Homo sapiens: one gene and its partner. The protein of the gene in region 1 purifies or fractionates together with the protein of each later gene. This does not show direct contact. Each region holds a gene or a part of one and is shown in the gene's direction. Other genes may lie near its edges.

The links.
Region 2: the proteins of CCDC158 (region 1) and SCGB2A1 purify together in Homo sapiens (affinity purification with mass spectrometry; 3 studies listed by BioGRID and IntAct, with this or other methods). This does not show direct contact.

What each region holds. Positions count from the first base shown.
Region 1 is NC_000004.12:76,406,072-76,422,045, reverse strand, and holds the start of CCDC158 (coiled-coil domain-containing protein 158), read left to right. Parts: upstream 1-904; 5' UTR 905-1,081; exon of another isoform or gene 1,082-1,871; intron 1,872-7,681; exon of another isoform or gene 7,682-7,785; intron 7,786-9,913; 5' UTR 9,914-9,956; intron 9,957-14,729; exon of another isoform or gene 14,730-14,824; intron 14,825-15,974.
Region 2 is NC_000011.10:62,199,800-62,216,257, forward strand, and holds SCGB2A1 (mammaglobin-B precursor), read left to right. Parts: upstream 1-8,873; 5' UTR 8,874-8,932; coding exon 8,933-8,987; intron 8,988-10,613; coding exon 10,614-10,801; intron 10,802-13,926; coding exon 13,927-13,971; 3' UTR 13,972-14,144; downstream 14,145-16,458. UniProt on the Homo sapiens protein: May bind androgens and other steroids, may also bind estramustine, a chemotherapeutic agent used for prostate cancer. May be under transcriptional regulation of steroid hormones.

The sequences.
Region 1 (15,974 bases):
GACTTACTAATATTTCTAATCAACTTATACATAAAAAGTTATTTGCTGTAGGTGTCTGCACAATGTGATTGCTAGCAGAATTAAATGCCTCAGGCTGCATCTATCAGACACTGGCCTTTCTGGATGCGTTCCATTTGATCGATAATTTGGGCAGCAAAATCTGATAAATTCTATATTAGAGATAATGACAGAGGGTAACTGTAGCACAGCGGAGGGAACAAGTCTCCAGAGGCAGAAGGGTCAGCTATGCCGAGAACACGTTTGAACTTGAACATTCGGGGACAGAGAAAACAGAGCTGCAAAATGTGAATTCTGTTAACTTGAAATGGTCAAATGGGAATGCCAGGAGTGGGAATGGGAGGGGGGGGTGAGGTGGGGCCGGGTGGGGGTGTCAGAGTAGGAGGCCCGGCGGGCAACTCCAGATTGGGCTTGACTCTTTGGCAGGTAAGAGCTCAGACTGGTGCGGGTCAGTGAGTTATCTGGGAAGACCACGGTGGGGACAGCTACGAGAGTGGCCCGAGGCGCTCGGGTGGGGGCAAGAGTAGGGCCGGAGACCAGTTAGGAGGCTGTGGGAGAAGCGGCAGAGGGCGCCGGGTGCAGGTCCGAACCCAGGGTAGTTTCTGGGGCAGGGCTCCAGGATTTGACTCCGGGCTGGGTACACCCCCACTCCTTAGGGCGCCCGGGCGGTGGTGGGGACTTCGACGCTCGGATGCCCCAGCGACGGCGTCCGGCGGGCGGAGTCGCAGGCGCGGGAGGGGTCCCCGCCGGGCAGCTGCCGAGCACCCCCCTCCTCCCCTCCCCCAACTACGAAGCCTCGCAGAGCGTCCTAACCGTCACCCACGCGGCTCGCGCGGACTGGGCAGCGCCCCGAGCGCCACAGCCGCGAGGAGTGACGGGCGCGGGCAGCTTCCGGCGCCGCAGCCGAGGAGGAGGAGCCGCCCCGCAGCCTCCGCGGGGCCTAGGGGCGAAGAGTGGGGAGCCGCCCCGTCCCAGCCGCCAGGTCGACGTAGGTGGGGCCGCTGCGCCCGCCGGCGCCCCGCGGAGATGTGGCCGGTGTCTTAGGATTAGGTGTTGGTTGCAGGTACAAGCGGGGCGCGGCCCGGGAGACGAGGATGGTGGGGTGGGAGTGGGGTTCTTCTGAGGACCCGGAGCGACTCGTGTTCATTTCTGGAATCTTCCGGTGCCTCGTGTTTGTTCTGCACATGGAAGATGCCCAATAAATTGTTTCTTTACTGGAATGAGCTGCTGTTGTTTTAGGGGATTGCAAGACCCCTGGGGACGGTGGCGCTGAAACCTGGACCTTGAAGAACACAGGGGCCTGCGCAAACTGATTTGATTTGTGGGGAAGAGAATCACCGAGTAACCTGCCCCAACGTGACTGCTGACTCTGTGTCTACCGCGCTGCCGCGAACAGGGGGAGGAGATGGGGAAGACTTGGTGGTAGAGAGGACAGCCTCGCATCCAAGACGGAATGGTGTTAAATGCCGGCGCAAGGGCCCTTTCAGCTTGAGCCCTGTCTTTAAACCACATGTGGGGGTCAGAGCTTTCCCTCATTATCAGCATCAATCAGCAACACAATGAGTTCTGGAAAGTCTCCATCCTTTTCCACAGCACTCTGCTCCAGGCCCCACTCAGGCTGCTCCAGGTTTTGTTTGTGCCTCATGCTGAACTCCAACGTCAGGGGAAAGTAGAAGTGAGGTCGGCTGTTGCCCAGGTTTTTTGACTGGCAACCAGTTCTTGCTGCTTCTCTCAGCAGGAGATTAAGGCGTTGTGGCCGGGTATGGCGGGGGCGTGTGGGGAAAGGACCAGGGCTTCCACATATCCCAGAGACATGCTAGGTAGGACTGTTTCTCTGTGCGGAAGCTCATCAGGTAAGGGTGCAGGAGTGCTGAGAGAGATGTGGTCCTCCTATCTCTGTACTGCGCTCATTGCTTTTAATCTTAGTGCGGTTATCTTACTTGTGTTGTGGGTGAAATGGTTTCCATGCCATAGAGTTAATATTATACTCCCAAAACAAATTGAGGACAGCAATTTATTTGTATGTATGCAAAGCCCTTACTGTTGTTGTGCATTTACAATGAGGACTTAGTTTTATCTAGTATGTTATGAGTGAGCCACTTTAGACCTCCACCATTTATTAAACAGGGCCTCTTGTGATCCACCCGTCCCCCAGCTAGATGGCCCCAAATTATATGGTAGGCTGAGCAGTGGCCACTCAAATATGTCAGGTCCTAATCCCTGAAACCTGTAAATGTTACCTTATAAGGGAAAAGTGCCTTTGCATACGTGATTAAGTAGCTTGAAATGGAGAGATTATCGTGAATTATCTAGGTGGGTCCTAAATGCAAACGCAAAGGTCCTAAGAGAGAGAGAGAAGCAGATTTGATATAGGCCGAAGAGAAGGCAATGTGACCACAGAGGCAGATATTGGAGTGATGTGGCCACAAGTCACCAAATGCCTGGCAACCAGCAGAGCTAGAAGAGGCAAGGAACTGATTCTCTTGCAGAGCCTCCAGAGGGAGGGAGGGAGCCCTGCCAACACCATGCTTTCTTCCCCATGAGACTGATTTTGGATTCCTGGCCTCCAGAATTATGAAAGAATAAGTTGCTATTGTTTTAAGCTACCGAGTTTTGATAATTTGTTATGGAAACTGTAGGGAACTAATACATATGAGCGTGCTCATAAATCACATACATGCTGTACTGATGAATAGTTTACAGGTCTTCAGCTGGGGCAATAGTGGGGTACAGTAGTGGAGATCACTGTATATTTATCTGAATCCTGTAAATCCTAAAGAAAGGATTTGAATAGGGAATTTGGTAAGAAAAGAAATTTAAGTGGTGCATATGAAGGAGGTAGTCTGGCATTTAAAGCAATTTTTTAAGAGTATTCCTATTAATATATCACTATTTGCTCTGGCTAAAAAGAATAAAGGTAAAAAGTGGCAAAGGCTTTGTCCTTACCTTAGCTGAATCATTATTGATTATCCATTGTGTGTATATCAAGTAAGAGTTGCAGACACCTGGGGATTGAGGTCCAGGCCTGGGGAAAAGAGGGAATGCAGAAGTGCTTCCATGTATTAAAATATGGCTAAAAGCAACCGCTAGTCATCTGGAATTAAGATACTTTGGAGTTTTCAGGATACAGGAAAATTCAGTGTTCAAGTTTAATGATTCACTTCTGGGACCCAGGCAGCTAATTTACACTTCCCACTTTCCTTGATATGGTTTGGCTGTATCCCCACCCAAATCTCATCTTGGATTGTAGCTCCCACAATTCCCGTGTGTTGCGGGAGGGACCCAGTGGAAGGTAATTGAATCATGGGGGCAGGTCTTTCCTGTGCTGTTCTCGTGATAGTGAATAAGCCTCACAAGATCTGATGGTTTTATAAAGGGGAGCTCCCCCTGCACAAGCTCTCTCTTGCCTGCCGCCACATAAGACTTCCCTTGCTCTTCCTCCATGATCGTGAGGCCTCCCCAGCCATGTGAAACTGTGAGTCCATTAAACCTCTTTTTTCTTTATAAATTACCCAGTCTTGGGAATGTCTTTATCAGCAGCATGAAAACAGACTAATACACTCCCCACATCTGCTTTCTTTTCAAACTGCTTTATAAGGTATAATTTACATACCATAAAATTCACCTGTTTTAAGTGGACAGTCCAGTGATTTTTAATAAACTTACTGAATTGTACAATCAGCACACAATTCAGTTTTAGAACATTTTCATCATCCAAAAATGATGCCTTGTACCCTTCTGTAGTCAATCCCCATTCCCAACCCCAGCACCATCTGCTTTTAATGACTGGCCTACTTCAGAGTTGGGTTTTAGTCCCTTTGTTGGACTGCTCCAATGGCTTTATAGCTAGCCCCAGCTTCTCCTAGTGTATTCTCTACTCAGCCGCTGGAGGATCATATGCCCTTGATTAAAATCCTCCAGTGCTTTGCGTTGCGTTTAGAATAAGCCCCAAAGTCTTCAGTATGTGGCCTTTTCAAGGCCCCATGAGCTTTACCTCCGCCAACCTCACTGACATCTTCTCAGGATAGTGTAGGAAAGGAAGTGATAAGCACAGTGTTCCTTTTGGCATGACACATAGTTGGCCTCCATTAGAAGCCCTCTCATCCCCACTTAGCTACCCTGCAGCCTCATTAGCCTTCTTCACTGGGAGTCAGTGAACACTGAGCTCTTCTCATTTTTGGGCCTTTGTGATGGCATTTCTTTTAAGAAGTTATCCCTGGCCACTGTGAGGCTGACCCCTTTCTGTCATTCAGTTCAATGCCACCTCCTTAGGAAGGCCTTCCCTCACCTACCCTAACTAGAGGAGCTGTGTTAGTCTGTTTTCATGCTGCTAAGACATACCCGAGAGTGGGAAGAAAAAGAGGTTTAATTGGACTTACAGTTCCACATGGCTGGGAAGGCCTCAGAATCATGGTGGGAGGCAAAAGGCACTTCTTACATGGCGGCAGCAAGAGAAAATTACCTCCCCCTGGGTCGCTCCCATGACACATGGGAATTCTGGGATATACAGTTCAAGTTGAGATTTGGGTGGGGACACAGGCAAACCATATCATTCCACCTGTGGCCCCTCCAAATCTCATGTCCTTACATTTCAAAACCAATCATGCCTTACCAGTAGTCCCCCAAAGTCTTAACTCATTTCAGCATTAATGCAAAAGTCTTCAGTCCAAAGTCTCATCTGAGACGAGCCAAGTCCCTTCTGGCTATGAGCCTGTAAAATCAAAAACAAGCTAGTTACTTCCTAGATACAATGAGGGTACAGGTATTGGGTACATATAGCCATTCTAAATAGGAGAAATTGGCCAAAACAAAGGAGTTACAGGGCCCATGCAAATCCAAAATCCAGCAGGGCAGTCAAATTTTAAAGCTACAAAATGATCTCCTTTGACTCCATGTCTCACATCAAGGTCACGCTGATGCGAGAGATGGGTTCCCATGGTCTTGGGCAGCTCCAACCCCTGTGGCTTTGCAGGGTACAGCCTCTCTCCCAGATGCTTTCATGGGCTGGTGTTGAGTGTCTGCAGCTTTTCAGGTGCACAGTGCAAGGTGTTGGTGGATCTACCATTCTGGGGTCTGGAGGATGGTGGCCCTCTTCTTAACAACTCCATTAGGCAGTGCCCAGTAGGGACTCTGTGTGGGGGTTCCAACCCCACATTTCCCTTCAGCACTGAGCTAGCAGAGGTTCTCCATAACGGTCCCATCCCTACAGCAAACTTTTGCCTGGGCATCCAGGCGTTTCCATACATCTGACATCTAGGCAGAGGTTCCCAAACCTCAATTCTTGAGGCCTGTGCACCTTCAGGCTTAACACCACATGGAAGCTGCCAAGGCTTGGAGTTTCCAGTCTCTGAAGCCACAGCCTGAGCTGCACATTGGCCCCTTTCAGCCATGACTGGAGCAGCTGGGACACAGGGCACGAAGTCCCTAGGCTGCACACAGCACAGGGACCCTGGGCTCAGCCCACAAAACCACTTTTTTCTCCTGGGCCTCTGGGCCTGTGTTGGGGTGGGCTGCCATGAAGGTCTCTGACATGGCCTGGAGACATTTTCCCATGGTCTTGGGGATTAACATTAGACTCTGTAGAGTCCAGCCCCACAGGGTCAGTGGGTTTTCTCCCCGTGTGCGGAGATGAGAGAGTGTAGAAATAAAGAGACAAGACAAAGAGATAAAAGACAGCTGGGCCTGGGGGACCACTACAACCAAGACGCGGAGACCGGTAGTGGCCCCAAATGCCAGGCTGTGCTGATATTTATTGGATACAAGAAAAGGGGCAGGGTAAGGAGTGTGAGCCATCTCCAATGATAGGTAAGGTCACATGGGTCCCATGTCCACTGGACAGGGGGCCGTTCCCTGCCTGGCAGCTGAGGCAGAGAGAGAGAGGAGAGAGAGAGAGACAGCTTACACCATTATTTCTGCTTATCAGAGACTTCTAGTACTTTCACTAATTTGCTACTGCTATCTAAAAGGCAGAGCCAGGTGAACAGGATGGAAGATGAAGGCGGACTAGGAGCATGACCACTGAAGGACAGCATCACAGGGAGACGGTTAGGCCTCTGGATAACTGCAGGCGGGCCTGTCAGGCCCTCCACAAGAGGTGGAGGAGTAGAGTCTTCTCTAAACTCCCCCGGGGAAATTGAGACTCCCTTTCCCGGTCTGCTAAGTAGCGGGTATTTTTCCTTGACACTGACGCTACCACTAGACCACAGTCCACTTGAAAATGGGCGTCTTCCCAGACACTGGCATTACCGTTAGACCAAGGAGCCCTTTGGTGGCCCTGTCCGGGCATAACAGAAGGCTTGCACTCATCTTCTGGTCACTTCTCACTATGTCCCCTCAGCTCCTATCTCTGTATGGCCTGGTTTTTCCTAGGTTATGATTGTAGAGTGAGGATTATTATAATATTGGAATAAAGAATAATTGCTACAAGCTAATGATTAATGATATTCATATATAATCATATCTAAGATCTATATCTAGTATAACTATTCTTATTATTTTGTATATTTTATTATACTGGAACAGCTCATGCCCTCGGTCTCTTGCCTCGGCACCTGGATGGCTTGCCGCCCACAGACTCCTTGCTACTTATGCAAATTTCTGCAGCCGGCTTGAATTTCTCCCCAGAAAATGGATTTTCCTTTTCTATCACATAGTCAGGCTGCAAATTTTCCAAACTTTTATGCTCTGCTTCCCTTATAAAACTGAATGGCTTTAACAGTACCCGGGTCACCTCTCTAATGGTTTGCTGCTTAGAAATTTATCCTGCCAGATACCCTAAATCATCTCTCTCAAGATCAAAGTTCCACAGATCTTTAGAGAAGGGGCAAAATGCTACCAGACTCTTTGCTAAAGCATAGCAAGAGTTTACTATGCTTAAAGTTCTTACATAGCAAGAACTTTACTCTAGTTCCCAACAAGTTCCTCATCTCCATCTGACCACCTCAGCCTGGACCTTATTGTCCATATTGTTATTGGCACCTTGGGCAAAGCCATTCAACAATTCTCTAGGAAGTTCACATTTTCCTGTCTTCATCTGAGCCCTCCAAACTGTTCCAACCTCTGCCTGTTACCCAGTTGCAAAGTCGCGTCCACATTTTCTGGTATCTTTTCAGCAATGCCCCACACTACTGGTACCAATTTACTGTATTAGTCTGTTTTCACGCTGCTGTTAAAGACATACTGAGAAGAAGAAAAAGAGGTTTAATTGGACTTACAGTTCCACACGGCTGGGGAGGTTTCAGAATCATGAAGGAGGCAAAAGGCACTTCTTACTTGGCAGCAGCAAGAGAAAATGAAGAAGCAAAAGCGGAAAACCCTTACAACCCCATCGGATCTCATAAAACTTATTCACTATCACAAGAATAGCACGGGAAAGACCGGCCTCCATGATTCAATTACCTCATCCTGGGTCCCTCCCACACACGTGGGAATTCTGGGAGATACTGTTCAAGTTGAGATTTGGGTGGGGACACAGCCAAACCATATCAGGAGTCTCAACTCCATCTCTCTTTATACCACTGTTCTTTGTTATTTTCTTTATTGTACTTGACAACTCTCCAAAATTATATTTGTGATTTTTTTCCCCTTAATGCCTTTCTTTCCCCATTGGAATATAAATTCATGAGGGTGGAAACTTGATTGGTCTTGATTTTAAACTTAACAGAATATGGTGATTAATTGGATATGGAATTTGAATTGATGAAGATACTTGAAACACCCAAGAAAGAAGGTTTAGTGAGGAGATGAAAAGAGCAGATTTGGGATAAGGTGAATTTAATACGACTGTAAACATATATGCAGAAATGTTAAAGGAAAAAAACTTAGCTGGGAATGGTGGCTTATCCCTGTCCTAGCACTTTGGGAGGCTGGGACAGACAGATCCCTGGAGTTCAGGAGTTCAAGACCAGCCTGCGCAACATGGCAAAACCCCGTCTCTACTAAAAATACAAAAATTAGCCAGGCATGGTGGTGTGCAGCTGTAGTCCCAGCTACTTGGGGGACTGAGGTGGAAGGATCACTTGAGCCACCACTGCACAGCCACCTGGGTGACAAAGTGAGACCCTGTCTCAAAAAAAAGAAAGAAAGAAAAAAGAAAAGTAAAAACTTTATTCTAATTTATCTAGAGCCAAACATTTTTAACAAAATAGCATGAAACTTGCTGGAAGCAGTTTAGAATTGTTCCTATCTGGCTTTGCTGTTGACTGATATCATCTGTGAGAAGTCATCATATTTTAGGTCAGGTTTTTGTTGGATGTTTTCCATGGGAAATCATAGAATGTCCAAACTGGAGAAGATTTTAGAGATTTTTCTAGTCCAACACTCTACCCAAGAAAGAATACCAGTGGCAGTTGCCATTTCAACAAGTGCTCACCCATTCTTATCTTCAACACCTCTCAAGGAAGCCCTCCACATATATATTCAGGGTGCTCTAGTCTTTAGAAAATCCATCTCCACCTTGAACTAAACTCTGTCTCTCTTTACTTCCATTCATTAGTCTGAATTCTGCACATAGAATATATTCATTTTTTTCTTTTCCTTTTTTTTTTTTTTTTTGAGACAAGGTCTCACTCTGTTGCCCAAGCTGGAGTGCAGTGGTGTGATCACGGCTCACTGCAGCCTCAACCTCCTGGGCTGAGGTTATACTCCCACCTCGGCCTCCTGAGGAGCTGGGACTACAGGTATGGACCACCATACCCAGCTAATTTTTAAAATTTTTTGTAGAGACGGGATCTCACTATATTGTCCAGGCTGGTCTCAAACTCCTGAGCTCAAGCAATTATCCCTCCTTGGCCTCCCAAAGTGCTGGGATTACAGGCTCATTCATTTTTTTAAATGTGGAAAAACTGCTTACATTCCACCGAGATATTCCAAAAATCTTGGTGGTTTATCATTTCGGTATACCTGCTTACAATATATAGATAGACCTGTTTTGACTCACCAGACAGAAGTTTCTCTACCCAATTACTTCTCTAACCAAGCACAAGTGATGTTGCCTGGTCAAGAGCATTTCCAAACAGTGAAGAGCAGTTAAAATGGTCAGAAGATATTTAGCTGGTCTATTTAAGTCAGTTTGGACTGTACCTGGAGAAAGGCCAGGTCTGAGAATATTGATATTAGGTCATATGTGCCTGTAGGTTTACTTGCTACATTATCTTGATAGTGCCAATGAGATCTGTGCCACTAAAATTAAAATTGGGCCAATAGCATATAATTAAACACATTTTGTTGTAAAAACATGATTTAGATAAGTGCTATAGGCTATTTTTTTCTTTTCTTTGAGATGGAGTCTCGTTCTGTCACCCAGGCTGGAGTGTAGTGGCACAATCTCGGCTCACTGCAATATCTGCCTCCCATGTCAAGCAATTCTCCTGCCTCAGCCTCCCAAGTAGCTGGGATTACAGGCACATGCCACCATGGCCAGCTAATTTTTGTATTTTTAGTAGAGACGGGGTTTCCCCATGTTGGTCTTGAATTCCTGGCCTCAAGTGATGCGCCCACCTCAGCTTCCCAAAATACTGGGATAACAGTCATGAGCCACCATGCCCGGCCACTATAGGCTATTTTTAAAAAAATTTTTTGTAGAGGCAAGGTCTTACTATGTGGCCTAGGCTGATCTCAAACTCCTGGCCTCAAGCAGTCTTCCTTCCTCAGCCTCCCAAAGTGTTGGGATTACAGGTATTAGCCACCATGCCTGGCCTGCTCTAGGCTCTTAAAATGTACTTTCACATAAAAGGAAAAAATAACACTTCTTGTTGCCATTGTTATATGTGTGTTTTACATATTGTCAAGGTCTTAAGTGATGAACATGAATTTGTAAATTGAACTTTTGAAATAATAAATTTCAGTTAATGAAATATATATAAATGAACAGATTTTAAATATTTTGTTTTTTCAGATATTAATAGAATAAGTGAAAATAAGAATATCCAGAAGTTAAGGTAACTTTTATTTTACTTGTAGTTATATTTAAGAATTGTGAACATATACAACTGATAATACTATTTTATCTGTATCTATATCTGATTTATTTTAGAAAACCTGAAGCCTTGAATTTGATGGATGCCTAGGCCAGAATATAAATATATCGTAGGCCTACAATATAAAAGCTGCAAGAGCTTTATCTTTGTGGTTTTCAGACTATGTTCAGTGGGGCCCTCTGTGTTCCATAGAGGTGTCTCTGGGGCAGAGAGGAGGGTGTGTGGCGCTTAGATTTAAAGAAACATTTCCACTGCTTAAGAAGGGTTTGAAAAACACAACTGTAATTTCATTTAGTAAGGATGGAAATTGAGACTCAGAGATATGAAAAGGTCTGCCCATGCTCTCACAGTTAACCAATGACAGAATTAAGTTTCCTGATTCTAAGTTCTGTGCATCTTCCATATTGCCTCCCTGCTAGATGGTATTATGTATGGGTGAAATGCGATCGTAAGTAGCTTAATTCCGTATTACATTATAATAGTCCCTGTGTTTAGTCAATGCAGATTAAACCCACTTTCTTTTGTTAGTGGGCCTATATGAAACTCAATATTGCTCTTTATTATGGGAAAATGAGTTAGTTTACATACACTGCTTAAGTTATAAAGATAGTATTGGGATTTTGGGGTGCTTTTTTTGGTTTTTGTTTTTTTGAGATGGAGTCTTGCTCTGTCACCCAGGCTGGAGTGCAGTGGTGATCATGGCTGATTACAGCCTTGAACTCTTGGGCTCAAGGGATCCTCCCACCTCACCCTTCCACGTAGCTGGGACTACAGGCAAGTACCACCATGCCCGGCTAATTTTTTCATTTTTTGTAAAGACAGAGTCTCACTCTGTTGACCAGGCTGGTCTCTAAATCCTGGGCTCAAGTGATCCGCCCACCTTTGCTTCCCAAAGTGTTGAGATTACAGGCGTGAGCCACTGTGCCCTGCCAGATAGTATTGTTATTCATGTTATTGCTGTCCAATTATCTGGTACCTTGTATGTGTTGAGGCAGTTACTATGTAGGAAGGCCGCAGTTACTATGTAGGAAGGCCTGCACGTGAGTTATCTCAGTTAACTCTTATTCTTTTGAGGTATACACTCTTTTACCTTTTAAGCTGTATACTTTTTATCTCCCTCGTATAGTCATAGAGAGGTTAAATATTGTTCTCAAGGTGGCACAGCTAGTAGATCACAGAGCTAGGATTACAACATCCAGAGACTTGAAAGAGTGTGATTGAGAAAACAGACACTGAGAGCATGTGAAGTTAATAAGCAGCTAACAGCAATTCAGGTAGTACAATACTGTTCAACATGAATGGTTCTCCTTATTGTGTTTCTGAGATTGTACCAGCCCAGTATGTTTCTTTGAATCAGTCCCGAGGTACCTCAGAATTTCCCAAGGAAAACATACCTGCAGACTGGTTCTAGAAGAATGTAGATCAGTTCTGTAAGATCCCCAGTCTCAGGTTTCTGTGGAAGGTAGGGTGGTTCATCAACCTAGGAGCTTGAGTCAGTTGAAGAATCCAGGAATCTAAATAGAACATACATCATAAGTCATCTGTACGCAATCAAAATAGAACTTGGGCCAGGCCTGGTGGTTCACGCCTGTAATCCCAGCACTTTGGGAGGCTGAGGTGGGTGGATCACTTGAGGCCAGGAGTTCAAGACCAGCCTGGCCAACATGGTGAAACCCCATCTCTACTAAAAATACAAAAATTAGTTGGGCAAGGTGCCACATGCCTGTAATCCCAGCTACTCAGGAGGCTGAGGTGGGAGGATTGCTTGAACATGGGAGGTGGAGGTTGCAGTGAGCCAAGATTGTGCCACTGCACTCCAGCCTGGACGACAGAGCAAGACTCTGTCTCAAAACAAAAAAAAGGGATTCTAAATCAGTTATTCATTCTATGATAGTCACAGGAGAGGTCCACCTTAAGTAGTAGCCATACAAAAAGAAATCAAGGTGAGGATTATTCATACTAGGAAAAGTATAAGTGCACATCCACCAGGGCCTTTCGACTCCAAGGAGCAGGAGTCAGAACCCAGGAGGTACTTTTAAACGCTTTATCTCAGCTATATAACAAAGCCTAAGGCTTTAGGGAATTTTCCTCCAAAAGTTCCCTCTTTGTGGTCTGTGGTTTCTTAGACCTTTTTTTTTTTGGCAACATTCCAATCAAATAACTAGAGTAGAATAGATACACAGATATTACTTTTTATTTTTATTTTTATTTATTTATTTTTTGAGACAGTCTCGCTCTGTCACCCAGGCTGGAGTGCAGTGGCGTGATCTCCGCTCACTGCAAGCTCCACCTCCCGGGTTCACGCCATTCTCCTGCCTCAGCCTCCCGAATAGCTGGGAATACAGGCGCCCGCCACCACACCTGGCTAATTTTTTGTATTTTTAGTAGAGACGAGGTTTCACCATGTTAGCCAGGATGGTCTCTATCTCCTGACCGCATGATCCGCCTGCCTCAGCCTCCCACAGTGCTGGGATTACAGGTGTAAGCCACTGCTCCCGGCCTAGATACTACTTTTTAAAAATGTAAGGCTCCTTTTAATGTGAACCTGTTCATAATTTTAAATCAGGCAGAACTGTTCATAATAGACCTTCGGCATGTCAGAAGAGGCCAAGATCTCACCTCTGTATTTTACTCAGAGATTTAAAATAAACACATGTAAGTTCATGTTATGATCCCCAATTCAACCAAGTGCAGAGTTTTTTTTTTAACAATTTTATGATTTATTGAAGCAAAAAACCTTGCTTTTTCTAGAAATCTTTAATCATTTCATAAGCTTTATGCCTGAAAATAGGAAAAATATTTCAATTCCTATAGTGTCACAAAAGTAGAGAAACACTGATGACTTGACCAAATTCAGGATATATGGTCAGTCTAAAATAGTGAAAATGAATTACAAATATTATTTAAATGCAGATTTTCATTACTCTAAAATACACACACAAAATAACTACCAGCATTGGCAACAGAGATACTAAGCATCCTCTTTACAAATAAACAGTTGTTTTAAAATTCTTGTTGAAACCCCATCAAAAAGTGGGCAAAGGATATGAACAGACACTTCTCAAAAGAAGACATTTATGCAGCCAAAAGACACGTGAAAAAATGCTCATCATCACTGGCCGTCAGAAATGCAAATCAAAACCACAATGAGATACCATCTCACACCAGTTAGAATGGCGATCATTAAAAAGTCAGGAAACAACAGGTGCTGGAGAGGATGTGGAGAAATAGGAACACTTTTACACTGTTGGTGGGACTGTAAACTAGTTCAGCCATTGTGGAAGACAATGTGGCAATTCCTCAGAGATCTAGATCTAGAAATACCATTTGACCCAGCCATCCCATTACTGGGTATATATGCAAAGGATTATAAATCATGCGGCTATAAAGACACATGAACACGTGTTTTTATTGCGGCACTATTCACAATAGCAAAGACTTGGAACCAACCCAAATGTCCAACAATGATAGACTGGATTAAGAAAATGTGGCACATATACGCCATGGAATACTGTGCAGCCATAAAAAATGATGAGTTCATGCCCTTTGTAGGGACGTGGATGAAGCTGGAAACCATCATTCTCAGCAAACTATCACAAGGACAAAAAACCAAACACCGCATGTTCTCACTCATAGGTGGGAATTGAACAATGAGAACACATGAACACAGGAAGGGGAACATCACACACCAGGGCCTGTTGTGGGGTGGGGGGAGCGGGGAGGGATAGCATTAGGAGATATACCTAATGTAAATGACAAGTTAATGGGTGCAGCTCACCAACATAGCACATGTGTACATATGTAACAAACCTGCACGTTGTGCACATGTACCCTAGAACTTAAAGTATAATAAAAAAATATATATATATATACATATATGTATATAAAGAAGTGAAACTCCTGACTACTCTGGGCACACTGCTTATGGGGTAGCCCTGCTGCACAAGGAGCAGTAAAAAATAATAATAATAAAATTTTTTAATTAAAAATTTAAAAAAACAACTCTTGTTTAAGTGAATAAACCTATGCTGTCTTCTGTAAACTACTAATTTTCTAAGAAAAAAATTCCCCTTTGAAGGACTGCTGCTTTCCAACAGCCTGTTATGAATAACACAAGCATTCATAGTGAGTTATGATGAATAACGCAAGCATTCATCATCTTACGTCGAAGTAGACAAGTGTGGTTTCCACATCAGAATATTCTAAAGCCAAACCTTCCTCTTTCTTCTTTTCTCTACTCTCTAACTCCTATTTTCAATTCTGCTTACCTTGATCTTAGATTCTGTTTCCTGCTTAATACTAAAGTCTTTGATAGTGAATTACTATATGATTTGCCAGTATTTGGTTGTGGTTCTATATCTGTCCTACTCATTCCTTTATGCTTCTGATTGATCTCTAATTCATGATAACATTACTCAGCAATTTGAACTTTCTTAGTGTCATTCATTATCCTGAAGAATCCCAAAATGTATCATGTTAGTGTATCAGTAAAGTTATACAACAAACATTCACAATGAAACTCGTTTAAATGAGAAGGCATCCTTCTTGTACACAGCATAGAGTCGTTTTTTATAAGCCAATTTGAAAATCCTTTTCTTTCAATAGGCAAGGTTTTTTTTTCCTCAAGTAGCAGTCTCTTCTATTTAGAACATTTAAATTGCCTAGCAATCTTGACTAACATTCTATTTGTTATAATTCTTTATGGAATATCTCCCTACCTACTACTTACTTCCTAAAAAACGATAGCACGAAGCATATTAAGGTAGATATGTTCTATCGTTAATTGTAGTTTTGACAGGTGGCATCTCAGTAATCAAAAGGAAGAAAATGTGAGTGAAATAAAAATGAATTCCGTTTAATAAAAACTGTTAAGCTCAGGGTTTTTTTAAATTTTTAGAGACTTTATGCTTACAATCATGAATTAATGTAAAAATGATAAGCAGCGTGTTACATGATCTTCCTCTTCCCATCACTTTAGTGGTCCTCACCCACATCTATTTTGTTTTGTTTTTTAGAGAATGAAGATTTTGATTCATGAATTTGACTCATTGTTTTTCTTTTTTCTATCTTAATTTCTGCTTTTGCATTTATTATTTCCTACTTGTGCTTTCTTTTAGTTCACCCATTTTTCTATGTTTTTGTGTTAGACACTTAATGAATTTACTTTTATTATTTCATTTTTATTGATGTAGGTGTCCAGGGCTGGGAATTTTCATCTTTTTACTATTTTAATGTATGTCACAGATTGATATGTACTATTTTCATTATTATTTTTCAGAAATTATTTAATTTCAGCTTGTGTTTCCCTTATCACACAAGAGTTGTTTAATAGAAGGCCTTTTAATTTCCAGGTAGAAAGACCTTTTTAATTTGGAGATTTTGATTTTAATTTTTAGCTTTATTATACTGTGACCAGAAGGTGTTGTTTGTAACATTTCTACTTTATGGAAACCTACTTTATGGAACCTACTGATTTGTGCCCTAGAATATGACTGATTTTTGTGAATGTTTCATGTGCCCTTGGAGAGGAAAGTATATTGTCTGTTATCAAAGTATAGTGTTTAATATATAGCCAAAAGGTCTACCTTAGTGATTAGTTCTTCTAAATCTTTTATATCTCTACTTATTTTTTGTCCACTTGGCCTGTCTCATACTAATTGTCCGTTAAAGCCTCCCATTATTACTGCGTTTGCAGTTCTTACCGTATCTTCTGTGGATTTATGCTTTATCCAAGTGATTGCTGTGTTATATGGTACATATCTTTATTGTGCAATGTGGCTTTTAACTTCAAGTGCACTGCAATTTGTTTTAGTTAATGCTCTCTGGCTTGAAGACAACTTAGTCTGGTATTAGGATTTTAACCCGTGCTTTCTTGTTGTTTTCATTTGCCTGGCAATTTTTGTTCATCCTTTTATTTTTAGTCTTTTTGAATCTCTGCGTGTGTTTTTAGGCATACTTTTTTGTACATAGCAGGGTTGT
Region 2 (16,458 bases), on another chromosome or scaffold:
CATAAGCTTCATTAAAGTGAACCTTCAATGAATCTCCATTTTTTTATGAAATAAAGCTCAACATTTCAATTCAGAAATCGGAATATTCAAGTCTGTATAATAATCTAAGCTTCACATTGTTAAAAAATATGTGTTTTCCTTTCTATCCTTATTCTTTCACTTTTTTTCTCTCAGCTGTTTTCTAACAGCTTAGGGGCTAGAAAAAGAGAAGAGAAAAGGAAATAAAGTTCTTAATTTACACACTATTTTGTAATTCATTCAGTTTCTCTGGGTCTGACAGATGTTTTATGTCATGGGTAAGTTTCATGAGTGCTTTATAAAGTCCAGATTAGTAAGATCTCTCCTTCGTTTTATGGTTTAACAAGTATTCAGACAACAACAAAGAACTTTAGAGAAATTAAAACATGATAGCTGGAATAATTAATAGAATTGAAAGAAAAAATTAAAATAGTGTCATGAAAAGCAGTATGTATGTGGTGGAAAAGATAAAGCAATAAAAAATATGAGAGAAAAGAAAAGAAGGTTGGAGGATGAATCCATTATGTCCAACTGAAAGAATTCCAGAATGACAGAGATCATGGTGGAAAGAAAGTCACCGAAGAGGCCAGTTGTGGTGGCTCATGCTTGTAATCCCAGCACTTTGGGAGGCCAAGGCAGGCAGACCACTTGAGCCCAGGAGTTTGAGACCAGCCTGGGCAACATAGTGAAAGCCCATCTCTACAAAAATTAGCTGGGTATGATGGCACGTGTCTGTAGTCCCAGCTACTGGGGAGGCTGAAGTGGGAGGATCACTTGAGCCCAGGGGGCAGAAGTTGCAGTGGACCGAGATCATGCCACTGCACTCTAGTCGGGATGACAGAGCAAGACTCTGTCTCAGAAAAAAAAAGTCACCAAGGAAATAATACCAAAAAATTTCCCAGAAAAAAATACAGTATTGAAAAATCCATAGACATCCATCTGTTTTCCATACCAAAAAATATTTTGCTAACATTCTGGAACATTGTCTTTAAGAAAAGGTCTTTCTTTCCCAGAAAGAAACAGTGAGGCACATACAGTGATGGGGAATAATAATGGAACCAACACAAGAACTGGTGGATGGAGGATAAATACTAAAAAATCAGAGGATTGTCAACCTCTAATTCTATACAAATATGAATCTGTAATCAGCCTACTCATTCAAACACAAAGATAAAATAAAGATCCTCAAACATTTTATGCCCAATAAACTTCTTCTCCAAAAGGTACTGGAGGACAGACCCCAGCAAAAACAAGTACAACAAGAAAGAGAAAGACATGGGACTCGGTAAACAGTGATGAAAATAGGAGTTAGTGGATAAATCAAGAGAACAGTAATAAAAGATTATTTGGAACATGGAAATCCTTCTGTAGAGAAAGAAGGTCTCAGGTCAATGCAGAATCGACACCACACCAAATGGGGGAGGGTGATACATTTTGTTGAAAGGATTCATAAATTTCCTTAAGGAATTAATCAGCAAGTTGAATGGGAAGACACGATATAGAACTGAAGAAAGTTACAATGTATATCACTGAGATGAGATCTTATTATGCAAATTAAAAACCTATAGAAATCCAAGGATATAGAAAGGAAAGCTTGTGGAAGAGGTGATGGCTGAGTTGGACCATGAAGCACCTAGAAGACGAGGATGACAGGCAGGGGAAGCAGGGCCTCCAGGTGCATGGAGCAGCCTGGGCAAAGGCATGGACATGAGGCTGACTCAGCCACCTGGAGGACAAAGATGCCCACATTCCTGCTGGCACCTTGCCAGGCTGGGGCTACACTCCCTGTTTGCTGAGTATGAGGCTCACGAATGCTACTGGTCATTCATCACAAGAGCAAATGTGTGCAGGTATTTCTCTAGCACTTGGCAGTACTGACATCAAAGGTAAGTAATCCTTTTTCTGTGGGATCTGTCCTTTGCATTGTAGGAGGTTCAGCAGTACCCCTGGCCTCTGTCCCCTGGGTGCTGATAGTACCCTACCACCATCCAGCTGTGACACCCAAAACTGTCCAGACTGATGTCTTTGGGAATAGGGAGGAGATGGGAGTAGGTGTGCCCTAGTTGACAATCGCTGCTCTACAGTGGAAAACTTTATGTCGGTTCTCCTATGTGACTCTTGCAATGGCCCTAAGGCAGGCATTCACAACTTTGGGATCACCACAGTTACCAGAAAAACGAATGGGGCATTGAAAAGAAAAAAAAGTCATGAACTTAATGGAGAAGATGTTAGTGTAAATATCTAATGAACCAAATCAGTTGTTACATGGGTACAGGATTAAGCTTTTCACCACACATTATAGGGAAATGTCAAGTTAAGTAAAGTTCATAGTTTTGGTTAAGGAGCCAAGGAGAATTAGCCAGGGGCTGACACCTGACCTCGGCTCTGCTTCCTAATCCAGCTCCATCTCCCAACTCATTAGATGAATCCAGGTCAGATCATATCGTGGTAATCGTCATTTTTTGAGAAACAGATCACTGGGCTGGCGTGGTGGCTCATGCCTGTAATCCCAGCAGTTTGGGAGGCCGAGGTGGGTGGATCACTTGAGGTCAGGAGTTCAAGACCAGACTGACCAACATGGCAAAACCCCATCTCTACTAAGAATACAAAAATTAGCTGGCCGTGGTGGTGCACACCTGTATTCCCAGCTACTTGGCTGAGGCATGAGAATCGCTTGAATCCAGGAGGCGGAGGTTGCAGTGAGCTGAGATGGAGATTGAGCCACTGAACTCCAGCCTGGGTGACAGAGTGAGACTCTGTCTCAAAAAAAAAGGAACACTGAGGTGGCCCCACCCCAAGCTGGCACAGCCTCCAACTACCTCCTTCCCTTGCCTGTCTCCTCCCACCCTGACCCCAAAGCCCTCATCCAAGAAAGTACAACATTAGTGTTAGTGCCCAGGATGTCACCCAGATGTGTGGTTAGTGTTGTGTGTAATCCCTGCCTTTACTAAAGATTCAAATGTCAATGAGTGCCTCTTTTTAGATAGACCTTGTACTAAAACATGAGAGATATCATCAGTGAACTCTTGTAAAGCACCAAATTTTGGCCCAGAAAATAAATTACAAAATTATTGATTAAGCACTTATTGTATGATGTTGTCATACAGAAGCAGGACATGCAGAGAGGCCATGTTCTCCAGGAGCATGAACAGAGAGGACAGGTCAGCTCCAGGGGATGTCAGGTCGGAGCTGCCCACGGAGAGCCACAGGTCCCTGGGAAAGGGGAGATCCAGGGAGTTGGAGGGGCCAGCAAAGAACACAAGGTGTGAGCTGCTTTGATGTGGCTTCCAGAATGAATGAAGCGTTTCAACCCAGAGTGACTAAGGCAAGGCAGTGGAGACCACAGGGAGCAGAGTAAAATTGTTCAATTACTGTAAGGTAAAATTGCAAAGTAAACGTAAATTATTTCAATAATTTCTCAAGCAGAAAACTGCGGGTCTTGTGCAGAAATCCACACGGAGTTCCCACAGGGCAGCAGTGGGTGTCAAGGTCACCAGGATCCACCTGAACCATGGTGTGCAGGCTTCTCAGTGTCCAGCCAAGGAGGGAAATAGTGTTGACAGCAGCTTGTGGAGGCAGAACACCTGGCTTCATATCCTGTTTCTGCCACTTCCCAGCTGTGTCCCAAAAAGTTCTATGGAATCTCTGTGTCCTTTCTCCTGTAGCTGGGGTGAAATGATCTGCCCACTTCACAGGGTGGTGATCACACATCCAGTTTGCTCAGGACAGGCCTGGTTTACATTGTTATCCTGGCATCCCACCCATTTAGGGTTCCCTTTTATTCTCCAAAGTGCCCCTCATTTACAATCAATAGCATGGTCACCCTGCTCATAGGATGATGGCTGTGAGATTCAAAGGGGCTTACAACAGTGCCCGTCATTTAGGAACTGGTGTAGAATTGTTTTTCATTCATATTTTATTGAACATTTCCTGAAAGTTGCTAAACAATGAGATCTTAAATGTTCTTATCACAAAAAAAACAAGTGTGTGAGATGATGGTGTGTTAATTAGCTTGAATTAATCATTTCAGAATGCATATATACATCAAAACATATAAACCATAAATAAATATAATTTTTATTTGTCAATTTACCTTAGTAAAGCTGGGTAAAAAATTAAAAAATGTATGTAAACATGTTCAATAAATTGGAACTGGTTTCTGGGAAGATTAATATGGTAATACTAAGTAGAAGATGCTTGGGTGATAAGTTATTTGTAAATTATTTCAATAAAACTCTGAGGCTAGTCGTGGTAGTTCATGCCTATAATCCCAGCACTTTGGGAGGCCAAGGTGGGCGGATCACTTGACCCCAGGAGTTCGAGACCAGCCTGAGCAACATGGCGAAACTCTGTCTCTACCAAAAATACAAAAATATAGCTGGGCGTGGTGGTGTGCGCCTGTAATCTCGGCTACTGGAAAGGCTGAGGCAGGAGGATCGCTTGAACTCAGGAGGCAGAGGGTGCAGTGAGCCAAGATGGCACCACTGCACTCCAGCTGGGGCGACAGAGCAAGACCCTGTTCCAAAAAAAAAAAAAAATCATAAAACCAAAAAACCTCTGAGGAAAGGGGAACGCTGAAAAAAAATCAAATACACATGGATCAAAACACAGAACTTTGTTTTCAAACTTAAAAGTTTTAGCTTATATCTGAATAGTTACTCAAATATTTTAGAGAATATTATGTGGAAGCCGAGTTTCAGTAGTGTCGAACAGTCCTAGTGGTCCTTGGAGTTTACCATAAATACATTTTTTTATTATTCAAAAATAATGGCTACCAGCTGACATCTGGATAGCACCTGCTTTGTGCCAAGCACTGTTCTCAGGACTTTCCACTTTTTACTTGTGAATCACAGCAATTCTATGACTGTTCCCATTTTAAAGGGAACACACAGCATTAAGTCTCCTGTCCAATGTGGCAGTCAGCAAACGGAGGAGCTGTGATGTGAACACAAGTGGTGGTCAGGCTCCGAGTCCTCACTCACCACCCACCTGCCATCCAACCCTTACGAGAAAGGGCTGCAGAACCTGCAGAGATGGGACCCAGCAGTGCAACACAGCGGCGCTCAGCAGAGCTGCAGCTTCTCAGGCCCTCCCTTCCCAGATCCTTCCTGGGAGTCTTGGGAATGTCCAGCTGGGATGGGACTGCCCCATGGAATAAGGGATTTTATCCTTTCCTTACTTTTCAATCATCTGACTCCTCTGGGAGTCACCTCCGGCATCTTCTGAATTTATCCATCTTTAACCTACCTCTCCCTACCCACAGCCTCCCCTCAACCTCTGAGCCAGAGGACGTTTCTCCCACTTAAGGGAAAGCACCCTTTCCCTCCTTTGGCCTTCCAGAGCCCTTCATCCATCTCTCTCTGCACCTCTCCTTTCCCGTCCGGGCTTATAGTCTCCTGTGTGTGTCTCCCCAGGCCTCTCAGAGGTACAGAGGGTCACAGGTCTCTTCTGACAATTGAGTGAGTATGAAAAACGCACCACCGTCACGTGCATCTTGGGTGTGTGTGTAAGGGGAAGGGGGTTCTTCCTTGGTTGCTGTAGACTCCCCATGGAAGCTACAGCCTCTCCTTTCCTCAGCCCCATTTCAGAAAGGAGAGGCCAGAAAGCGTTTCTGATGCTTGTGGTCTCTTTAGAGGATTCACCCTGTTCCCTTCACTCAATCCCAACCCCGTGTCACCAGATGTATTCACCCCTACGCAGGGGGAGGTCAGTCTTTGCAAGCTTCTGACACATTTTGGGACACTGAGCTGGAATATGGGGGTGCTGGGGTGGATTGAACACTGAGCAACTCAGACTTGGAATCCCAGCATGAGGCTCGGGCGCGAGGGAGGCGCTGGGTCTAGACGAGGCCTTGGTGACTTGAACAACAGGCATATTGCTGCCAACAAAGATGGCTCCAAGACCAGAGGCCTTTCCTGAAGTTCTGTTCTGTGTAAGAAGGTGACTGACAAGGCAGGGCCACAAGGACTGGGGCACCAGGCAGAGCCCCAATAAGTACTGGCCAAGGAGACACTCTCACATTTCATAATCAAGGTCCTTCACTACCCTTGGGAAACAAGGCCACCAGCCAGGGTCAGCTGTGTACAGTGGTAAGTAAACAACACTTCTCCTTTCTGTCCTCCCCAAAATTAGGTTTGTTCTTGGCCACTGAGGCTCCACCTGAATGGTGGAAAGAAACATGTCGCAAGTAATCCAGAGAGAAAACAATGCATTCACAGGGAATTAACAATGGATTCATTCCTCTGGCTGTTTCATCGACTTCTTTTTTTTTCTTTTTTCTTTTTTTACCTGAGCCAACTTTGTTTTTCTTGTTCCTATGACCTTCACTGTGCCCCTAATTAAACAGGGATGGGCTTTCTATCATGTGAGGCTGTCCCGTCCTTTTCCTGATTCTATGTGGCCACGTTCCTTCCCTTCCTTACCTTGCCAGTGCCATCTGTCCTCAAGCTTCTGTACTTGCAGTTCCCTCTCCCTGGAATTCTCTTCCCCAGATGTGTCCTTGGACATCACCATCCACTCATCCAAGTCTCAGCTGAAACAGCACCTGCTCCTACAGGCTGCCTTGGGGGGCTTACAGGCCACTGCCCCTGGGCAGGCCATCTATGACAGCATTCAGCTGTTGTGAATATTTTGTTGTTCTTTGCAGCAATGACCACTTTCTCATACCTCTGATATATCTTTAGTCTTGTTCTTTGTGTCCTTCATTAGAAAATAAGGTCCACAGGAGCAAGCACCTGGTCTAACCTGTTTCTATAACTGAATCTAGTGCAAGGCCCAGCTCACAGGAGAAGCAAAACAGTGATGCGTACAACAAGGGATCCACGCATGAATGCAACTGCCATTTATTCAGAATTATCTCATGCTTGGCTGCGTGATTAAAAATTTACAGAGCGTCGGCCGGGAGCGGTGGCTCAAACCTATAATCCCAGCACTTTGGGAGGCCAAGGTGGGTGGATCACGAGGTCAGGAGTTTGAGACCAGCCTGGCCAACATGGTGAAACCCCCATCTCTACTAAAAATACAAAATAAATAAATAAATAAATAAATAAATAAATAAATAAATAAATAAAAATTAGCTGGGCGTGGTGGTGCACACCTGTAATCCCAGCTACTCAGGAGACTGAGGCAGGATAATCGCTTGAACCCGGGAAGGCTGAGGTTGCAGTGAGTTGAGATCACGCCACTGCACTCCAGCCTGGGCAATAAGAGTGAGACTCCATCTCAAAAAAAAAAATTTACAGAGTATCTCTCATCTTTACAAAAATTCACGGCCAGGCGGGCACGGTGGCTCACACCTGTAATCTCAGCACTTTGGGAGGCCGAGGTGGGTGGATCACCTGAGGTCAGGAGTTCGAGACCAGCCTGGCCAACATGGAGAAACTCCGTCTCTACTAAAAATACGAAAATTAGCCGGGCCTCGTGCCACATGCCTGTAATCCCAGCTACTCAGAAGGTTGAGGCAGGAGAATCGCTTGAACTCGGGAGGCGGAGGTTGCAGTGAGCCAAGATCGTGCCACTGAACTCCAGCCTGGGCAACAGGGCAAGACTCTGTCTCGAAAAAAAAAAAAATTCAGCATCACTTATACCCGTTTCACAAAGACAGAAAGGAAGCCCAGAGGGACCAGCATTGTAATTTGCCCAAAGACACAGCATGAGTACGTGTGGCCTCCAGGATCCACACCCACACCTGCCCAAATCTTATCACCTAAATCTCATCATCACCCAACCCCATTGCCACCCACTGCCTAGCACTGCCTGCCCAAGCAGTCAGTTACTCCACTCACTCACAGCATCCTCTCAGTCAGTGGATAGAAAACCGTAAAAGGCTAACAAAGAACTAAGCACAAATTAAATTATAAATATATTGTAAAATAAATTTGTAAAGTTGAATTAACTTAGTGTTGTAATTCTTAACAAGAATAACAAGAAGCTTTCAGTAGAGGTTAGATATTAATGTTTTCCCCAAAACTTAAAGCACTTTTCGGGGCTGGGCATGGTGGCTCACGCCTGTAATCCCAGCACTTTGGGAGGCTGAGTGAGGTGGATCTCCTGAGGTCAGAAGTTCGAGACCAGCCTGGCCAAAATGGTGAAACCCTGTCTCTACTAAAAATACAAAAATTAGCCAGGTGTCCTGGCGCATGCCTGTAATCCCAGCTACCCAGGAGGCTGAGGCAGGAGAATTTCTGGAACCCGGGAGGCGGAGGCTGCAGTGAGCCAAGATCGCACCACTGCACTCCAGCCTGGGCAATAGAGTGAGACTCTGTCTCAAAACAACAACAACAACAGCAACAAAACCCCAAAAAACAAAAACAAAAAAACCCGCTTTTCTGAAAAAGAAATGTCTATGGATTAGGAAGGTCTGCCTCCCATAGGAAGATGCAGGTATTGCACATAGCCCAAATATTTGATGATTCCAGGACCGGCAGATACACAAGTTATGAAACTGTTTGTACCTTGAAGAATAACGAGAAGAGGAGGAGACCAAGAGGAATAGAAGAAAAAGAATAGAAGGAGGAGGAGGAAGAAGGGAAGGAGGACTAGAAGAAAACTACAATAATAACAACATTGTTGAGACCACAAGATCACGCCACTGGGTTTTGCTTTATATTTTGGAAAACACTGTCACATCCATTTTACTAAAAGCCATGTATCATTATTGTAGTCCCCAGATTGTCAGGGATCCAAATATTACTGCCTTCTTGGTTTCTACAAACAGAGCACAGGCTGGCTGTGTTCCCATTGGTGTACACTATTGTGTCCTGGTCCCATGCCAGGTTGACACATTGCCTCATTCCTGGGAGGGACTAAGGTGCCTCCCTGGGGAATAAATAGAGCAGGGCTGGGTACTCACCTCCACAGCAACTTCCTTGATCCCTGCCACGCACGACTGAACACAGACAGCAGCCGCCTCGCCATGAAGCTGCTGATGGTCCTCATGCTGGCGGCCCTCCTCCTGCACTGCTATGCAGGTGAGTTCTGGGCAGAGAGGGCTGCTTCTGGGCTAGGAATTGTCACCTGGGCCCCTGTAGAAGAACTCCCAACCTCTAATCCCCAGCACAGACGAGCCCCAGTGTGAAGGGCCTGGGTGCGATAGGCCTTAGGATCCCCATGAGTTCCTGACAATCAAGCATGCAGTGTCCTCATGGGCTGTCCCCTGCATTGGAGCTGCACACAGTGTATCATGGCACTCAGCGTCTCACCATGGTCACGGTGACCATAGAAACCAGGATGAGTCTCAGGATTAAATATTGAAATGAACTATTTCAGTGGGGCAAGGGAGAGATGGCATCTACACCTAGAAATCAGGAAATAATCATGGGTCTCCTTGAATATGGAACGAAATAGGAAACCTCCCAGGACAGAAGGCCCAGGCTGCAGAGTGTGACCCAGTGTCTCTCACCCTGTGTGGCTCACTCTGTGTTCTCAGAGTTGATCTGGGTCCTTCTGGGATGCCCTTACCCTCCCAGTTGCTTCAGGCTCAAGGCAGACAGGTGAGAACTCACAACCCCTGGAGTCTCCTTCCAGCACTAAAGATTCAGTGGGAGGAAAAAGCCCCGGCTGCTGGAATCAGCGCTAATATTTCCATAGGTAGCCTGCCTTGTGCAGTTCACAAAGGTGGATTCCAAACCCTACCGTATTGGCATCCAAGGTAGGTGCAGATGTGTAGAAGGGTGACAAGCTCACAGTCAACTAACTGGAAAATCACAAAGTCCAGAGCACAACCAGCTCACATGAAGCCACGTCCTGAGCTCGTTCCTCTCCCTTACAGTGGGAGGTGACCTCAGATCCCCTCATGAACAAGCTCTATTTCACATTCATGTGTGTGTGTGTGTGTGTGTGTGTGTGTGTGTGTGTGTGTGTTTGAGACAGGGTCTTGCTCTGTCACCCAGGCTGGGACTGGGACTGGTGTGCAATGGCACAGTCTCAGCTCACTGCAACCTCTTCCTCGAAGGCTCAAGTAATGCTCCTGCCTCAGCCTCCCGAGTAGCTGGGACTACAGGTGGACACCACTATGCCTGGCTAATTTTTAAATTTTTTGTAGAGATGAGGTCTCCCTGTGTTGTCCAGGCTGGTCTTAAACTCCTGAGCTCAAGCAATTCGCCTGCCTTGGCCTCCCTAAGTGCTGGGATTACAGGCGTGAGCCACCATACCTGGCCACACATTCCCTTTTATTGCAGTAGAGTCAACAGAACTAATGGACAATGTCCTAGACCCATTCATCTGAAATCCTTGGAAACCCTACCTGATGCTGGGCATGATAACAGGGAAGCATTGCATGACTTTGAACCAAGAAAGTCCAAGTAGTGTTTGCTATGTCCCCCCAGTCAGAACACCTCATTTCTCGAGGGTCCTCTTCACCAAGAATACACAGGGTTGGGCTTCTCTGGGTTTGGAAGGTCAGAGAGAATTTGCAGAGCCTGAGTTTACACTCCCAGAATTGAGAACTCTGCATACTGCACCAAAATCTTTCTGAACCTCGGTCTGTCCCTGGAGGTACGAAGATAGCCAGCTTCCCAATTCATCTGTAGAATGAATCACACCTCTAGTAATGGCCCATGTTCTTGTGTCTTTTTTTTTTTTTTTTTTTTTTCCAGATTCTGGCTGCAAACTCCTGGAGGACATGGTTGAAAAGACCATCAATTCCGACATATCTATACCTGAATACAAAGAGCTTCTTCAAGAGTTCATAGACAGTGATGCCGCTGCAGAGGCTATGGGGAAATTCAAGCAGTGTTTCCTCAACCAGTCACATAGAACTCTGAAAAACTTTGGACTGATGATGGTAATTTGGGTTTCTTCTTATGTACCCTTTGAAAATCACTGATCAGAACCAGCGGGCTCTAAATTTGGCACCAAGAATGCCAAGCAACTGGTGAACAAACTTTCTTTATATATCAATTCATTAAACTTTGTCTCCAGGCTGCTTTGCCACTTCACATTGAGAATCTTTAGGGAGTGATAAATGGAAAAGGCAAAAAGGAGAAAAGAAAGCCTTAGAGATCACCCGTCTACCTCTGACCTCACCAGTCCCTTCTCACACAGACACAGACACACATAAGCACACAAGTATAGACACACACAGACACACGGGGACAGGCATCGGCATTTTTTTTTTTTTTTTTGAGACGGAGTTTCGCTCTGTCACTCAGGCTGGAGTGTAGTGGCGTGAATCTCGGCTCACTGCAACCTCCACCTCCCGGGTTCAAGAGATTTGCCTGCCTCCACCTCCCGAGTAGTTGGGATTACAGGTGTGCGCCACCACGCCGGGCTAATTTTTGTATTTTAACTAGAGAAGGAGTTTCACCATGTTGGCCAGGCTGGTCTCAAACTCCTAACCTCAAGTGATCTGCCTCCCTTGGCCTCCCAGAGTTCTGAGATTACAGGTCTGAGCCCCCGCACCCAGCCAGAACATGCACATTTTTATCAAGAGAAAATATCTGGTTCTCAAGAGATCACACACTTGTAGGAGCAATCTACTAAGAAATTTCCTACTTTCACAAAAACAAATATTCAAAACATTCTTATTTTTTTTTATCTAGCTCAGAAAATACAATTTGTGCAAATTCTGCATTTTCTAAAATAAAGAAAAAAATTTTTTTGAGATGGAGTTTCACTCTGTTGCCCAGGCTGGAGTGCAGTGGCATGATCTTCGTTCACTGCAACCTCTGCCTCCTGGGATCAAGCAATTCTTGTGCCTCAGACTCTCAGGTAGCTGGGACTACAGGCATGTACCACCATGCCCAGCTAATTTTTGTATTTTTAGTAGAGATGAGATTTTACCATGTTGGCCAGGCTGGTCTTGAACTCCTGACCTCAGGTGATCTGCCCGCCTCGGCCTCCCAAAGTGCTGGGATTACAGGTGTGAGCCACTGCTCCCGGCCTAAAATAAAGAATTTAAAATGCAAGTCCAAGCAACCAAGATTTGTTAGCATACATGACTGGAAGTCATGCACCACTTAATTAAGTGCCTCATGAAGTGGGAAGTGCAGATTATGGGTATGAAACAGCACGAGTGCTAGAATTGTTTAAAACAAAAGTCAGTGGTTATAACAAGGAGTATTTCTGTCTGTTTATAAAGATGTGTTGGTTACGAGTTTTGTTTTTTGTTTTTCGTTTTTTTCGAGATGGAGTTTAGCTCTTGTTGCTCAGGCTGGAGTGCAATGGCACGATCTCGGCTCACTACAATCTCCGGCTCCTGAGTTCAAGTGATTCTCCTGCCTCAGTCTTCGGAGTAGCTGGAATTACTGGCACACAACACCACAGCCTGCTAATTTTTGTATTTTAAGTAGAGATGGGGTTTCACCATGTTGGCCAGGCTGGTCTCAAACTCCTGACCTCAGGTGATCTGCCCGCTTCAGCCTCCCAAAGTGCTGGGATTACATTTTTTTTTTAAGAATTTATTTAATACCCTAAAATTTTATTTAAAACATTCCATAATAAAAAATGTAAAGATATATCAAATGCTCAAGGATAAAAATAAATATTAACTGCAATTTGGGATGGTTGAATCATTTTTTTCTTTAAAAACTCAGATTAGCCAGGTGCATCCCTCATACCTGTAATCCCAGCACTTTAGGAGGCCAAGGCGGGCAGATCACTTGAGGTCAGGAGTTCAAGACCAGCCTGGCCAACATGCTGAAACCCTGTCTCTACTAAAAATACAAAAATTAGCTAGGCGTGGTGGCGCACACCTGTAATTCCAGCTGCTTGGGTGGCTGAGGCAGAAGAATTACTTGAAGCCAGGAGGCAGAGATTGCAGTGAGCCAAGATAGTGCCACCGCACTCCAGCCTGGGCAACAGAGTAAGACTCCATCTCAAAAACAAACAAACAAACAAAAATCCTAAACAAACCAAAAAAACCCCTCAGATTAATCATTCATATTGTAAAACTCCAGTGTTTCTTGTTTCCGTTTTTTTGTCTTTGTTTTTGTTTTTGAGACAGAGTCTTGCTCTTTTGCCCAGGCTGGAATGCAGTGGTACAATCACAGCTCACTGCAGCCTCCATCTCCTGGGCTCAAGTGATCCTCCCGCTTCAGCCTCCTGAGTAGCTGCGACTACAGGTGCACACTAACACACCTGGCATATATATACATATATATACACACACACATATATACACACATATGTACACACATATGTACACATATGTACACATATATGTGCACATATACATGCATATATGTACACATATATGCACATATATACATATATACACACATATATACATATATACACATATATACACATATATACATATATACACATATATACACATATATATATATATATTTTTTTTTTTGTAGAGATGGCATTTTGTCATATTGTCCAGGCTGGTTTAAACTCCTGGGGTCAAGCAATCTGCCCTCCTTGGCTTCCCAAAGTGCTGGGATTACAGGCATGAGCCATCCCACCCAGCCCAGCTCCAATATTTCATAGGCCTCAAAGGTAATGGTGAAGAGTCTCAGACTGTTACAACATTTCTACCTTTTATGCCTGTGCAGCAACTCAAAACCATCACATTCTTGTATCTGAGCTGAGATTTTTTAATAATTCTGTGTTGTAAAAGTGGTATCAGAAACAGTCCAAATGATCAGGTCTTCAACAAATAGTATATGCAGCATATTTATTGGATAAGTTATTTCAAAGGATAGAATTTTTGGAGAAAAAAAGTATTACATGGATCACTGGTAGGGAAGAGATCCTACAACCCTGGCCCCTGTTTGGCATTATGAAGTGTCTCCTAGATAACAGAATAAATGGAGAGGGGATGCTGGCTTTGCTTCCACTGCAAATCCTCCTGAGAGTTAGCTGTTTGTGGACAAATGCAAGAAAACAAGAAGACAAGTTTTAATATTTGATTTAATAAGTGAAATTTGCAAACCTAAGTGACCTGCTTTTGTTTTCCAGCATACAGTGTACGACAGCATTTGGTGTAATATGAAGAGTAATTAACTTTACCCAAGGCGTTTGGCTCAGAGGGCTACAGACTATGGCCAGAACTCATCTGTTGATTGCTAGAAACCACTTTTCTTTCTTGTGTTGTCTTTTTATGTGGAAACTGCTAGACAACTGTTGAAACCTCAAATTCATTTCCATTTCAATAAACTAACTGCAAATCACTAAAATTCTTTCTTGTTCTTCTATAAAAAAAGAAGCTTTCCAGGCTGCACAGTCAGGCTGTAGGTTGCAGACAGAGACAAGCCTCGAAGGAGTTGAGTGAGGGTCCGAGGTTTCTGGGAAATACTTTATTTCTCATCATCTCGAGCCCAAGAGTTGGACTTCTCTCTCTCTGCAGAACAAAGTATTAGCTCTTGTTGCTTAGCTAATTTTTCTCTGAAGAGTGTTTCACTCTCCACATCCCACTACCTCCCTAAGCCACTTTCTCTGGGGACCTCACACTCTTGGAGTCATGCTCAGAAGCCCTGATTTTACCCCAGTCCCATCCATGCTGAGCCCTGCTGGTTATGCCAGGCTCCTCTGGGTTGTCTTTGGGCCTCCCCAACGTGTGCAGGGCCCAGACCAGAGCCAGCCAGGGAGGGGAGGCCTGCAAAGCAAGGTGGATCCTGTCTGGATTTTAAATTTTGAGTTTTATTTGTCGTTCATGGATGTTGGCATTAATTTTGAACTTTTAAAATATTGCATGAAAATATTACTTACCCTGATGACTGAGTTTGCTAGCATAGCGACACCTTAAATTGTGCAACTTTTCTCAGTCCAGTCTCTGCCAGTGGGTCCATCCTCCCCTGCCCCACAGTGAGCTGCAAAGGCAATGAGGGTTGAGGGGAGTGAGTGTGCTATGCAGGGACCCAGCACAGAAGGGGATGTTTAAATGGAACCGGGGTCTCCATCGTGTCCTGTCCCCAGCACTCCTGTCACCAGGGTTAGGTTATTGCCTGTCCCTTTTCCTTCTGGGGCTATCCCCTCACCCAGGAAGACCCTGTCTATGTGTCTGGACAACTCAGCTTCACCAGGGCCGACTCTTCCATCAGGCAAGGCAAGGGCAGGGATCCAGGCCCACAATATACATAGGGGTGTATGAAAATGTTATAATTTAAAGAATAATTTCCTGAAGTGATTGTAATATTAATGAACATATACCAATGAATCTAGCCTGAATTCTATACTTCGTCTTACCAATACAGTTGTAAAGTATGTTTAAAATGTTCTTATGAAGAAGTGGCCTATGAAGGCAATGTAATACCTGTGACCTACAAAAGCCATGCAACAGATGATAAAATATTGCTGTTTTATTTGGACTCAGAGACCTATCCTCAAACCCTCAATCTTCTGGCCAAAGTTTAGGTCAAATAAGGATGTGATGTGTCAACTTGTAATTCAATATGTAAATGACAAAAATCTAGTTTCTCAAGAAGAGCTGGACTATATTCTTTTTTAGAGACAGAGACCTATTCTCCTTTTTCCCTGAAAGACAATTAGGAAAAAACTCAATCAAAAACCCCAAAATAAAGAGTCAGAAAAGCCAGTTCTCATGCCTAAAGACTCCAGCACATGGGATCCCCTAGACCATCTTCCCCTGCTGAATGCTCTTAACCCTTCCCCTCAGACAGCCCTTCTGTCCCAGATCCTGCCCCAGATCCCTCCCTTGCTCACATTATTCCTCCTCCTTACAATCCAGATTCCTGGGAATCATCATCCCATGAGCCTATTTCTTCTCAGCCCATGTAGCCTATTTCTTCTCAGCCCATGTATCCTTCCCTAAAAAGACTCCAGCATTAGAAAAAACAATATAAAAAGGATATTCAAAATTTCCCATTTCCCTCCACACCTAAGGAGTCAGCCCCAACTCTCTTCCCCTTAAAAGAGGTGCCACAAGGAGATGGAACTACTGACTTTGTAAATACTCCCTTAACCAGTTTGGAGGTCTAAAGTTTGAAGAAGAAACTTAAGCCATTGTTATATGACACTTACAGAGTGACAGATCAGGTTGATCAGTTTTTGAGACCTCGGTTACACACTTGGGTCGAGTTAATGTCCATCCTAGACATCCTCTTTTCAGGGAAGGAAAAAAACATGATCCCTAGGGCTGCTATGGCAATTTAAAAATGTAAATATCCTCCCGGTCAAACATTCCTAATGCAGATCGAAAGTTTTCCACCCAAGACCCCCGGGGTAGGGAAAAGAAAGAGATCAGACTGTTACTGTGTCTATGCAGAAAGGGAAGACATAAGAAACTCCATTTTGACCTGTACCCTGAACAATTGCTTTGCCCTGAGATGCTGTTAATCTGTAATTTTCCCCAACCTTGAGCTCACAAAAACATGTGTTGTATGGAATCAAGGTTTAAGGGATCTAGGGCTGTGCAGGATGTGCCTTGTTAACAAAATGTTTACAGGCAGTATGGTTGGTAGAAGTCATCACCATTCTCCAGTCTTGATAAACCAGGGGCACAATGCACTGTGGAAAGCCACAGGGACCTCT